Regions from separate parts of the Homo sapiens genome. Here region 2 is linked to region 1. The links come from fine-mapping of genetic effects on gene expression. A gene starts in region 1. The other region holds a variant in brackets. All regions are shown on one strand. Distances are between the middles of the regions.

What was found. PIP is the estimated chance that this variant, and not a neighbour inherited with it, causes the effect.
Region 2: its variant is the best candidate, but not a certain one, in a credible set for the expression of CYSLTR2 in whole blood (TOPMed, PIP 0.86).

The regions. Positions count from the first base shown.
Region 1 is chr13:48,652,106-48,655,025 of GRCh38, forward strand. CYSLTR2 (cysteinyl leukotriene receptor 2) reads left to right here and starts at 1,824. Exons shown (of 5, transcript NM_001308476.3): 1 at 1,824-1,912.
Region 2 is chr13:48,624,776-48,627,695 of GRCh38, forward strand. No RefSeq gene overlaps it. Among named protein-coding and RNA genes, the nearest start is that of CYSLTR2, 28 kb to the right of the region's middle. The variant T/C (reference allele first, on the strand shown) is at 1,456.

The sequences.
Region 1 (2,920 bases):
TAACATTTGTGTACTGTGAGTTCTAATTGGGATAAATAAAATACTAGAAATAGAATCCCAGACCCAGGAAGAACCTTGTCTTCAGAGGAGCAACCTTGGTCCCAGCCCCTTCTCCACAGCTGCATGAAGAAGCTGCACAGAAAACCACTCACCCTCACCCCTAGAAAGTACTCTTCCCAGCCCCTAGTAACCACTATTCTACTCTCCACTTCTATAGGATCAAATTTTTTAGCTTCCACATGTGAGTGAGAACATGCAGTATTTATCTTTCTATGCCTGGCTTAGTTCACTTAACATAATGTCTCCCAAGCTCATCCATGTTGCCACAAATGACAAATTTTGTTCTTTTTAAATCAGTAAATAGTATTCAATTGTGAATATATACCACATTTTTCATCCATCTTTCTGTTGATGAACATTTCGGGTGATCCATATTTTGGCTATTGTGAATAGTGCTACAGTAAACATGAGAGTGCAGAGATCTCAACAAGATTCAGTAACCTTACTACTGAGTATATATCCAAAGTATTTTATTCATTTTGATGCTATTATAAATGGAATAGTTTCCTTAGTTTCCATTTTTGGATTGTTTATTGTTAGTGTATATAAATGCAACTGATTTTTGTGTATTGATTTCCTGTCCTGCAACTTTGCTCAATTTGCTTGCTTATTAGTTCTATTGGGGTTTTGTGTGTGTGTGTGTGCATGGTATCTTCAGGTTTTTCTACATATAAGATTTTATCATTTGCAAACAGACAAAATTTTACTTATTTATTTCCAATTTGGATCCCTTTTACTTATTTTTCTTGCTTAATGTTACTGCAGCTTTCTATGCAGGAAACGAGGATTTGAACAGTGATGGAGAGATGAGTAATGGTTCGATTTGGAACATATTTTATGGGCAGAACAAATGGAACTTGTTGGCTCAGAAGTGGGTGGTGGAAGAAAGAGGGAAGTTAAAAGTGACTTCTAGGTTTATGGATGGATGAACTGGCTAAATTATTGTGGTGCCATTTGCTTAGACAGGGTAGATGGGGGGATGCAGGACTAAGAGAGGAAGAGAAAAGCTCCACCTGGGCCACATTAAATTTGGCCATGATTGTGGATCAGATAGGTAAAAGCAAGAGAAGGAGGGAAGAAGTCAGAACACAGACCTCTGGGGAAAGCTCACACGTAGAAAAGGGGTGGAAGAAGAGGCATCAGAAAGAGAGGCAAAGAAGAGCAATCTGAGGGGTAGAAAAAGAACCAGGAAAGTCAGAGAAAAAAGGGAAAAGTTTCAGGAAAGTGGCAATGGTCAACTATGCAAACAAGAGGGGAAGGAAGGTGAGGACTGAGAAAGGATTTTTTATGTAAGCAACAAGGAGGTTTTTGGTGACCTCTGACAGAACATTTTCAGCAGACTGGATAAGGTCTCTGCCTGAGTGCAAGTGAGCTGAAAATGCAAGTGAGTGAGGGAAGTGCTTTAAAAAAGTCTAAAGTGCTATGTGTGTAAGGCAATGTTGCTATTTCTGTTGCCATGGAAACAGAAACCATTTAGGAGAACTAAAAGCCACTTAAAATTCCTGACTCTAACCCATCATATCCGCTTGATCTCTTGAGAAAGATAATGACAAAAAACCAGTCATTAGAGGGGCAGGGCAATTTTAGGTTTCTTCTTTTTAGACATAGCCCCTAACTGGAAATTTTCACCCTTCTTGAGAAGGGAGCTTGCACTAACATCTACAATGGCTTCTAAAAAGCACAGATGACCTGCTACACTTCCTGACTTGCTTGCTATTGGTTGGCACTGTTCATAAATATAATTTGCTCTTTCACTTTTCTTTGAAATGAGCAACCTGAATTACTCGGAGGAGAAAGGCAGGAGAGATAGAGGCAGCAGAAGCCAGGGCAGCTGAAAGACAGAGACCTTCAGGTGGGCATTTTAATCTTTGTTTTGTTAATTCAGTGTTGAGCATCATGACTTGATGATCACATAATAGTCAGAGGAGTAATTTTTTAAAAGTAAATTTGTTTTGTTCTACTATAAATGTTATTTTCCTATCATGTACATGGTAGTTTAAAAAATACTGTGGAAGTATAAAAATGTTGAAAGAAGCCAAATTCTCCACCAAAATAGCCTCTATTGATATTTTGGGGATCGTCCCTTTGTGTGTGTGTGTGTGTGTGTGTGTGTGTGTGTGTGTGTGTGTGTGTGTGTGTGAGTGTGTGTGTGTGTGTGTGTATGCACATATAACTTTAGTTTTCATAGTTGCGTCCCTACACTATGGACAAGTTTGTATTCATTTCCTCCATATCAGTCTATGGTTTTTCCATGTTGCTGTGAATTCTTTGTAATCATAAATTAAAGCTGCTGCATATTATTGCATTGAGGAACTTTACTATACTTCCTCCATTTTTGGCTGTTATCCTCTTTTTCATAGTTTGGGTCCTTCTATTATATAAGATATATTTTTTCCATTCAGTGTCTTGTTTTAGGGGTAGAAGAAGTTAAATCTGAGCACATATATTTCAATGGTTTTGCTCAGAGGCACAATGAGAATGAAAGAGTATGTGAGATCATGAGCATATAATCTGTTCCTTACCCCACTGGGACCCTAATCAGTGTTTCTCAACCCTGGCTGCACATCTGGCCAGAATCACCCGACTCTGAGGAGATTAGAAAATTACCCCTAGAATAACTGAAGCTTAACTTTTGGAGATCAGTGAGTCATCTGCAGTATTTTATCTTGTTTTCCAGAAACTTCTCAGGTGGTTCTAATGGGTGGTCAGCATAAAAACAGATGACCTAGGTCATTCAAAATATTTTTCTGTCTCTGAAATATACCTGAGAGTAATATGTATTAGGAGAAAGGGAGGTATAATTTAAGGCAAGCCAACCAAATCTCCCTTTCAACACTACATAAATAATGCAAATTATAAA
Region 2 (2,920 bases), 27 kb before region 1:
GTAATATATCCAGGCATCTCTTGGTTGGCCCACATGGAACTTCCTGGATGCATGGCACAAATTAATATGTTCTTTCGGTTACACACGGGTGCAAGGTCAGATAGTTCACACTCTTTCAAAGCCTGGGAATTTCCTTCATTTGGAATCCCATTGGGCCCAATCTGTTTTCTATCGGTACAACAACTTAGCTTCTATTTTCCTTCCTCAACGGGACATCAAAGATGTTATTTAGCATGTGGAAGCTGTAACAAATTATACAAAGAAAGCTTTTAATAATAGCCACAAGAGAATCTCTCTCTGAAACACAGAAGTCACTCTCATGAGAAAGTCTGTCCTCCAAAAGCACATGGCTTTAGACGTGCTCACTGTTACACAAGGGGGGCTTGTGCAATCATAAAAACTGAATGCTATGTTTATATTCCTGATGAATCAGATAACATCACTAAATTAATGACTGATATGAAAACCCAAATAACCACTCTTTCAGACCAAACCCCTCTTTTGAATGACTGGTTTTGGGCAGGTTTGGATGAAGCTAGTTCTTGGTTTAGGTATTAAATGCATATGTTGTTTACTGCCCTGCTTTGCCTTTACTGTTGTCATGGCAGCTCCAATGGAGCCAATGCACTATTGCTAAAGCTATACAATATCAAGCATCCTCCATCTAGGTGCAGGGACTATCCCAGAAGAGGAGGGCACATGAGATTGTAAGGACCAGTTTTATAGGGTGGAGTATAAGAGAATATCCTGTTGTATGGCAAGAGTGATACCACCTTGAAGTGAAACTATCATAATGACCAATGTTTGACTCCTGTAGACCAAGGCATTCTGCAGCAAGGTCAAGAAACAAGGACTGCAGCATAGATAACCCCTCATAAAGATGCTTACCTAGCTTTTCCACTAGTCATGAGTTTTGCCGAGGGTCGGAGACATGACCAGTGACACGTTTCACCAAAACAAATTGCTATGTAAAAAATACTTTCTGGAGGGTGGGTACAGGGATCTACCATCTCTCAGCTTCCCAAGACATGGCTTCTTTTCATAAGTCCCTATTAAATGTTTCTTTCTGAGAAATTGGATTTGTGAGTCTTTTTCTTTGGCTTCTCAGCAAACTCAGCCTTTGGGGATAGGTTTGCACAGAGCTGCTCATTGTGGAACAGTGAACTGGAGCAAGTGTCAGTCACCCAGGCTCTCCTTGGAGAGATAGGTGCCTCCTTATGGAACAGGAATTAAAAGAAATTAAGGAGTGTGTAAGCAAAAACTCAGTTGTATGTAAGAAAACCCAATTCCGCCTGAGAAAAAGGAAGAGTTGGAGTCCTTTAAAAATTAACTGCCTGTTTTTCTGTGGCTAGTGAACCTTATCTCTCCTCCTTTCCCAGGCATTGTGAAAATCCTGTTTCCCTAGCTGTGCAGCTGCAAGGTCACTAGACAGATAAACTCAAGTTGCAAAACATG[T/C]TTTTCTTTGAAAAGTAAGAAATGATGTAATGCATATCTCAACTGATTGAATAACTGCGTTTTTTTCTCACTTCTGTAGTATGCCTCCCCCTGCACAGATCTCTCCCTGCCCCATGAAATGCTTAAAATGTAACTTAACTCTTTGTTCAGGGCTCAATCCTTTGGATGTTAATCTGACTGGGCTGGTGCACCTAAATAATTGATAAATATCCTCCTGAACTCCATCGATCTCTCTAATTCCTTAAAAATCCTGCAACACTTACACTAAAAAGAGCCATTGCTAAGTGATTTTACTGCCGCTTAGAAATTTCAATCTCAAGGGCTGGGGTTCCCAGAGCGGGAGATTATGTCAAACTGCAACTCATGGTGCCAGCACCCCTTGACGAACACAAACCACTGTTTTGTACTTCAGATCATTCTGATATTGATACTATGCTTTGAAACAAAATGTCAGAAGGCTTGGGAATGATAGTAAGAGGAGTTTAAACATAAATAAATAAACAATTTTTTAAATAAGCAAAATGCCAGGGGACACTAAGGAGCAAGGGCAAGGCCATCAACAGTAAAAATTGTGCCCAAATGCAGAGAGCAGGCTTGTGGTAGTCTCCTTGTTCAGGAGCCCAGAAATTCTATAGCTTACTTCTATGGAGATGCCTTTCCATGCTGTCAGTGTTTTGATGTGTCATTGCTATCCACAAGTCTGGAAGAGCAATCTCTGCTGTTGTCCCAGATCATTTGTCCCTCTTACCGGAAGGACTCCTATTAAACAAGCCTCCATCCCACTCCTTCAGGATAATAAAATTCCATACTTATCAGAAAGGGGAGAAGAAACAATTTATAAGGTACCTATACTGTGCCAGGAACTGTGTTAGGTGCATTCACCAACATTTTTTTAAAAATTTAATCCTGATTTTATTGACTTGGAAAAATCCCAGCTTAAACTGGGTATGAGGAATGTGGCCTGGAGATAAATTAACCAAGGAATTCAGTCTTCACAAACCATTGGGAGGATGGCTGTCTGCCCTTTAAAAAATGCTTTTTGTTAAGAAATGACACTTTTGTCCCAGCAGAAGCATTCATTTCATTCATTCATTCATTCATTCACTCAGCAAACATTGACTGAATGCCTTCTGTGTGTCAGCTTTAGTGGGCAAAACAGAAGTCCCTACCCTGTGGAGCTCATATCTTGGCACGGTGAAAAGGCATAACAGATTGACAAGTCATATGACATATGAGGAGGTGCTAAGTGAGATGCAAAAAATAGAAATGAGTAGAGTTTTGGGAGTGAGGGGTGGGTTGGGTGCAATTTGACATACAGTAATCGAGATATCCCTCACTGAGAAAGTGACACCTGAGGAAAGACTTGAGGCAGGTGAGGGAGAAGCCAGGTGGACAGCTGGGGAAGAGCCTTGCAGGCAGAGGCAAAGGCCCTACTGTCAGGGAGTGCTTGATTTGTTCAAGGAAC